2 linked regions of the Homo sapiens genome follow. The protein of the gene in region 2 interacts with the protein of the main gene of each other region in a pairwise test. Each region holds a gene or a part of one and is shown on either strand. Other genes may lie near its edges.

Region 1 (3,752 bases), on a different chromosome or scaffold from region 2:
TGTAAAGTTCCTTTTACCCTTCAACTGTAACCCATAGCATCTGCCCAAATACTGCTCATTTTTCACTTTCTACTATATGTCTCTTTCCTGCCAACTGAGGTAGTTGTCACTTAGGACAGTTTAAGGCTCTGGAAAACACTGGTGGAAATAATCAACTGCCCACCTGGAGGGCAGTCTCAGAGCTGACCCTTTGGAAGTCTGCAATGGAGCTAGGCCTTTCAAAATTACCACGCTAAATGGCTGGTCTAAAGGAGTCATTACGGCTTTTTAAAAAATCATCTGCCTTTTTCCATCATCTTGGTGAGCCAGTAAGTCTGGTGCTGTGCGCTTGCCATGACCATCTATCTTCCTGGCTAAGGTAATTACAGACTTTTCCAGGGTATAAGGGTGAAGACCACAAAGAAAAAGAACCAAGTAAATGACAGACACTTGAGAATTTGCTTCCTCACAGATGACATTGCTGGTTTATAAGGGGTACTTTGCAATGGCAAAAGAATCTGAAACTAATGCTACTGCAATAACAGGCAGCATACATCTCAGGTCAGAAACGCAATCATAAATAAGTGTAAGTTCATGGAAACTTGACAGCTGAATGAGCACCCAGAGGCATGAAGATAACCTGGAGCCTATTTCCTGGCAATGCAAATTGTGGCTGCTGCATAACTACAAATTGTGTATCAAGAAACTACATAGTTTCAAGGCTTAAAAATTACCCAGATTTGGGGGAGTATGGGTGGTGAGAAAAGGCTGAAAGGAATGGACAGAGCATGTAGACAAAGGAAGGGAAAGGAAAAGGAGACAGTTTCCTGATTTCATAGCAACTCAAAGATAACATGACCCAATGACAGGAAAATGGAGAACGTATAAAAAGCATCCAAATCCCCTAAACAAGATGACTTCTCCTAGCTAGCAGGAATAATGCTACTCTGAACATACATAGTTCACAGGTAAGGGAACTGACCCTTCCTGAAAGGGCAAAGGCAGGGTAAGGAAGAATGGGAAGAGAAGAATACAAATGTTTTTTAAGATGGAATTGAAAGTTGAATATAATAAAAAGCCCAGTACATCTCACCTGCAGAAGAGCCTACAGGCATGTTCCTAAAGGCAAATAGGACTTTCTATCATATGTATGAGAACTAAATCAAAGCTTAAAACAACAGCTCCTGGGGCTTTAATGGATAATCCATATTAATAAATATGTAGGGGCCTAGGGGGTGTGTCACTCTGGAGCACTTGCTGGTTCTGGAACATGAGTTTGTTATGTTTTTTAAAAGACATTCATTTAAAAAACAAAACAATAAAAATCTATTTTCCTCCCAAAACAGTTAAATCAATAATTATTCTAAAGTCACTGAAATAAAAGCTGGAGTGAAGGAGGCTCAGATTTGTGGATTTCTCTCTGGAAGTTGCAGCCTATAGTCTAAAAGCATTCCTGCACTTAACAACAGTTCTTACTTTGGAGAGCCAGCCAGTGACAGAAATGCCATGATTGAATCAACTTTCAAGAAGGAGCTAGAATGCCATGCTAGCTGTGGCCATCCAATTTCTCTGGAAACATAAAAGTGGGCTGTTAGCTTAACCAATGGGAAGTGAACTACCCAGCATTCACTACTTTATCCACTCTCCTTCCTCAGGGATCCCATAGAGACCTCCCATTTCCAAAGGGAGGCCTTTTTAGGCCTCTTATTTCAGTAGGAGAATTTCTACCCTATCTATCTCACTCTGTTTCAAAGGGTTGAAAGCAATTGCACAACACATGCAACATGGACCAAGGCACCAAGCCAGTCCACGTAAAGATAACTGACCACTACCTAGGTTAGAAAGTTGTTCTGTGTGATAGCAGGACACCGAGAATATGAGTCCTCCTCCTCAGAGGATGCTTCCTCATAGATTTCATCCTGGGCAATAATGCTCCCTAATCCATACTCCTGCTCATGGACAGAAACTTCATTTGGCGTGAGGTGGGAAGAGCCTTCCACAAAGTCAGCAAATCTGGAAAAGAGAAGATAATACTCGTTAGAAATATCCTTCTGTCCTTTCTGGTCTTCTTTCAAAATAAGAACAAATTAAAGCCCTCGATATGCTCGCAACTCAAATTATATTAAGTCTAGCCAACATCCTTGTCCTTACTCTGGCAGGTAAGTAGACTAAAGCATGAAGTTAAGGAGAAAAGGAAAGCTGGGATCATAGGCTAATACCCCTGCAACTCCATCCTGCTTAATAAGCACTTGCCTATCCTTTCTAATTATGAAAGTGCCAAGGTTCCTTTAGTCATCTGTAATCCTGATAAGAGAAGATTAAGGGGCATTACAGTTATTCACGTTTATGGCCCTGTAAACTTTATGCCATCATGATTCCAAATTGAAGCTTCACATACTCATTGGTACATTTGCCCCCAACTAAAAAGTGGGTAGGGGGGAACCCTACCAACTCAGACAGCAATGCAAAACTTTCAGAAGGGAAACTTAATATGGTACTGGAGTCTTCCCATCTTAATGCTACAATCAAAGCTAGAGTAGATAGTTCCCTGAGGAAACAGGTTACTGCTTAATGTGTGATTATATATCCACCCTTCTCTTGACTACTTGAAGATTAACAGGAAAACAAAGGTCACAAGTGCACGATTCTCTAGAAGTATGATCTCTGGTAGAACTCAAGGTCACAATTACCCTGATAGATGCTTGGTATATCTGGCCGAGTTTACCTTTTTGGAGACTGGATTCGAGAAACAGTCTTCCAAGCAGAGCAGTCTGGACTGTTACAAAATTCTCGGAGCTCCTCTAAAGCCTTTCGGGTTTCTACCTCTCCTTGTATCCGATATTCTTCTTCTGTCAGGAGACGAGGGGGAACAGGCTTTTCTGCTCCCTTACACACCTTTCTGTGCTCACCAAAATAACATTATGAATCATTAATCAGTAATCTATATCCATCCTTACTTCTAGCTCCCTTCAGTGGGCCAAGAATACAGCAGACAGCCTGAACATTAAGAGTCATCACTCCTAAAAATTCCATGGACATCTTTAGTTATAATGAACTCCTGATACATTAGACTATGAGTGACAATTCATAGGCGACAGAGCGAGACTCCATCTCAAAAAAAAAGTGATATAATTTGCACCACCTTGTGGTAACAGGAACACATGACATTTTACTAGACCTTTTTATTTTATATAAAATGACTAGAATAAAAATATAAAAATGCCTATAGAAAGTAAAAAATTATAGTCAATATTATTCACTAATGTGAACAAACTCACTTTATTTTCCAATAAATGATAAAATACTTACTTATTTTCTAGTAGATGGGAAAATAACAGAAAATCATGGTATAAGACTGTGGTTCTAGCCAGGCACAGTGGCTCACGCCTATAATCCCAGCACTTTGGGAGGCCAAGGCAGGCAGATCACCTGAGGTCAGGAGTTGGAGATCAACCTGACCAACACAGAGGAACCCCATCTCTACTAAAAATACAAAATTAGCCAGGCATGGTGGTGCATACCTGTAATCCCAGCTATTCGGGAGGCTGAGGCAGGACAATCGCTTGAACCAGGGAGGCGGAGGTTGCAGTGAGCCGAGATCATGCCATTGCACTCCAGCCTGGGCAACAAGAGCAAAACTCCATCTCAAAAAAAAAAAAAAACAAAAAAAAACGCCGGGCAAGGTGGCTCACACCTGTAATCCCAGCACTTTGGGAGGCCAAGGTGGGCAGATCACAAGGTCAAGATTGAGACTATCCTGGCCAACATAGTGA
Region 2 (3,752 bases):
CCAATACCACTTAAGAGGAATCATGAAATTACAACGCCAAAATCTAAGTGCCTGAGGGACAAGAGGCCCTCCCCCTACCCAGTATTAGCCAGCTGTATCTCACAGGCAATGCATTCACTCTTCGAAGAAAAACAGAAACCAATTAGTATCAAAAATCACAGCCTAGCAGACCAATGGTGCAGCATTTGAAAAAGGCTGTGTGACCACCCTTCTATCTCGAGATGAGATGCTGCAATACTGTATGCATTTTCTAGTCCACAACTCTTTTGAGTTAGGCATGTGCTGAGTATAGATGGCTCACAGAACATCAAGAGATTAAGAACATATCTCGGCAATGCAGAGCTCCAATAACTATTAGTAAATCTAGAAGTTTCACACTATATTCCTATTTAAAAATCTGCTCCAAAATCCTGACAAGATTAACTGACAGGATTTTAAAATTTCTATACAAATAAAATGGCAACAAGCATCCCTAACAGTTGAAATGTAGTTAAACGAATATCACCTCTTTTTTTCTCAAGGGGTCATAAAACTAACAGCTCATTTGTCACCCCCATCCCCCCACCATATATATCCTCCCTTTGCCTGTTGCTGAGTAAAGTCAACTAAGAGCAGACATTCCAAGTCAATTTTCCTGAGCAACTGATGCCTAGGTAAAGAATTATTACATAGAGAATACTGACATGTATGTGCAAAGGTATAAATAAGTAAAATCGACTATATTTTTATGCATGTGATGTCAGACTTGCAAGTGAGAGACAACTGAGGAGAGAAAGCAAAAACACAAAAAGAAATTTAAACTGCCACACTGCCAACCCTGGGATTTGCCAATAAAAATCAAATCCATTGAGTATGCATGGTTCTCAGTTGCTCACTGAGAGGGAGAATTCGAAGAAGCTTGTCACTTCCCATTAAATGTCTTCTTTCTTTCCTTTAAATAAAGGCATGGCAGAGTCTGATAGCAATATATACAACACTGTGAGGTTCCACTGTTTGAGAGCTCAACAGAGTATGTCTGGGCCTCTTTTCCTCTTCTTGTACTTTTTTTTAAAAAAAACAAGAAAGACTGTTAAAATCATGCCTGTGTAAAATCATATGCAAACACAATCCTGCTTATAAATCAAATGGTTCTCTGATGCAAAAATCACATTTCTTGTGATACCTTTAAGTTATTTCCCAGTGACTAGTTACAGTCTACCAAAGCTAAACACTAAAGAAGTTTGTAAAATATCAGTAGTAAGTCATCACTTTTTTATGGGAATGTGCTTAAATGCAGGGAGGCACTAAAAGGAACACAGTTAAAGTCAGACATTTTGTAAGAAAACAGGAACTGAATAAACGAAAACACTCCATGAGGTATACTTCGACGCAAAACTATAAGATAATATTTTCCTTCAACAAATACTTAAGCCCTGACAATATGTCTGGTTCTTGGTATTTGCTGGAGATTTAAAAAGGTAAGGCCAGGCGTGGTGGCTCACACCTGTAATCCCAGCACTTTGAGAGGCCGAGGCAGGCGAATCGCGAGGTCAGGAGTTTGAGACCAGCCCGGCCAACATGGTGAAAACCTGTCTCCACTAAAAATACAAAAAAATAGCTGGACGTAGTGGTGGGCGCCTGTAATCCCAGCTACTCGGAAGGCTGAGGCAGGAGAATCGCTTGAAGCTGGGAGGTGGAGGTTGCAGTAAGCCGAGATGGCGCCACTGCACTCCAGCCCAGGTGACGGAGTGAGACTCCGTCTCAAAAAAAAAAAAAAAAAAAAAAAGGCAAAAGAGTAAGATACGATTCCAATTGCAAAGTGACCACAGAAACAATTAAATACAATCCTGCATTAAGGGCAGCTGACAGGACAGAGGGGTCCCAGGCTTCTCCTTGCCTGTGCTAGGGGAAGGCAAGGTGCTGGGCTGTCAGAAAAGCTTCACGGAAAGAGGTGACCCTTGAGGCAGGAGCATTCAGCAGTAAATGGCGCAGAAATAGTGCTCTCATTAAAGGGAGGTGGCTGAGGACATTCATGGAAAACTGGAAACTGCTGGTGTTAAGAGGAAGCTGTAAGCTTCAGACACAAAGGGAGCTGCAGGGTCCAGAAAGACTCTGAAGAAGAAAAAAGCAGTCAAGGGCCATATTATAAAGACTTTACCCTGCAGACAATGGGCAATCAGGAAAACAATGTCATCACTGTTGTACCAGAGAGAGGCCATCTTCTTAGCAGTGAGGGTACCATACAAGGGGGCTGAGAAAAGGGTGGGTGCAAAACTAGAGGCCGGCAAAGACTAAAGACTCCAAGCACAGCCATTGAGGGATGGACCAAGAAAGAGACAGAGGAAAGATGTAAGACTTGGAAACTGGATGTAGAACGGGAGAGAAAGCAAGGAATCTTACAAGGCTCTACAGGAATAGGGCAAGGGACTGCACAGCTAAACAGGAAAGATTTTTCTTTTCTTTTTACATTAGATATTATTTTCATACGTTTGGACACAACCAGGCTACTTGTGATTTTTGAGGCAACTTCTCTACTTATTTTATCCACACGAGTTGTCTTTTTCTATTTATTCTTTAGAAAGATTTCTTTGTGGCCCTCAATAATGCTGAAAAGATTTCTAATTCCAATTCTGGTGCATGGCACACATAAGGAAGTTAACTTGTAACATCAGCATTATCAAACTAAAAATATGGAATTAAGAAAAAAAAGTCATCAAAATTAGTTTACCAAAGTTCTCTATTAGTTGTCCCACCAGAACCACCACTAGCAAATTTTCCAGGATTGTGCTATAGAGAAAGGTGGCAAATAACAAGGAGCACTTTCTACACACAGAAGGTGGTGATTCTGGAGCCCCTCCAAAAGGTGGCTGCTCTATCTATGAATGTTAGTTGAACAGGAAAATCAAAGGATGATTATCAGTTTTTCTGACTTAAGATGGTAAGACCCTAGCGAGGTCTTGAAAATCCACGCCAACACATATACACAAAAACATATGCATATTACATACACACACAAACTCAAACACACTATGTTTCTTAAATCATTTACTTCTTTTCCCATGATACTTTCCCTAAAATAATGATGCAGGGGATGGCAGAGCAGAGATTTTGAGAGAATCCATTTTCCATCTCTGGCAACTTGGACAAATCTGATATCTTTCACTCTCATCTACTAAACACCATGACTTAACTAACAAAATTGGTAGCAGAATTGGCTGGAATCTAGATTTCCTAATGTCTCTCTACTTTCTTTTGCCCAAGTACCTTATGGTACAAACTGCTTTCAGAAGAAATACTTAAGCAAGAAATGTAAATGCAAATTCCCCAAATGAGGTTAAGTTTGTAAGTGTGACAAACCTAGTGGCTGGGAACAGGAAGGAAAGTAGTGGCTGAACTGTGGTATTAGCATTTGAAATTTTCCTTCCTAAAATGTAAGTTTATGGCAAAAGTGCTGACATTAAAGGGGCAGAAGGACAAGACAGCAGGTGCAGCCCTGTTACTCTTCATAGTGGAGGTACAATGAAACCTCAGTTAAGTTCTCCTGCCCCAGCCCAAATGCACAACACACGCCAGGGAATTCCATCTAGGTCTGGCACCCAGTCTGGAGGCTTGAAAAGTGGCATCCTGAGTAGGGGGAAAAGTGTGAGTAGCTTCCTTTTCCCTTCCCCAGCATGTGACATGTGGACCCAGTCACACCACTCACTGGCTCTGGGACCCTGGGCTCACTGGTTTTCTTTCTTCATCTCAGTGAGTGTCCTCATCTCCCCATAACA

Evidence for each region.
Region 1: the proteins of INSIG2 (region 2) and NEMP1 interact in binary tests that used the Homo sapiens proteins (3 or more experiments, as listed by UniProt).

Annotation. Positions count from the first base shown.
Region 1 is NC_000012.12:57,058,068-57,061,819, forward strand, and holds part of NEMP1 (nuclear envelope integral membrane protein 1 isoform a precursor), read right to left. Parts: intron 2,879-3,752; coding exon 2,705-2,878; intron 1,993-2,704; coding exon 1,812-1,992; 3' UTR 1-1,811. UniProt on the Homo sapiens protein: Together with EMD, contributes to nuclear envelope stiffness in germ cells. Required for female fertility. Essential for normal erythropoiesis. Required for efficient nuclear envelope opening and enucleation during the late stages of erythroblast maturation.
Region 2 is NC_000002.12:118,098,387-118,102,138, reverse strand, and holds part of INSIG2 (insulin-induced gene 2 protein), read right to left. Parts: intron 1-3,752. UniProt on the Homo sapiens protein: Oxysterol-binding protein that mediates feedback control of cholesterol synthesis by controlling both endoplasmic reticulum to Golgi transport of SCAP and degradation of HMGCR.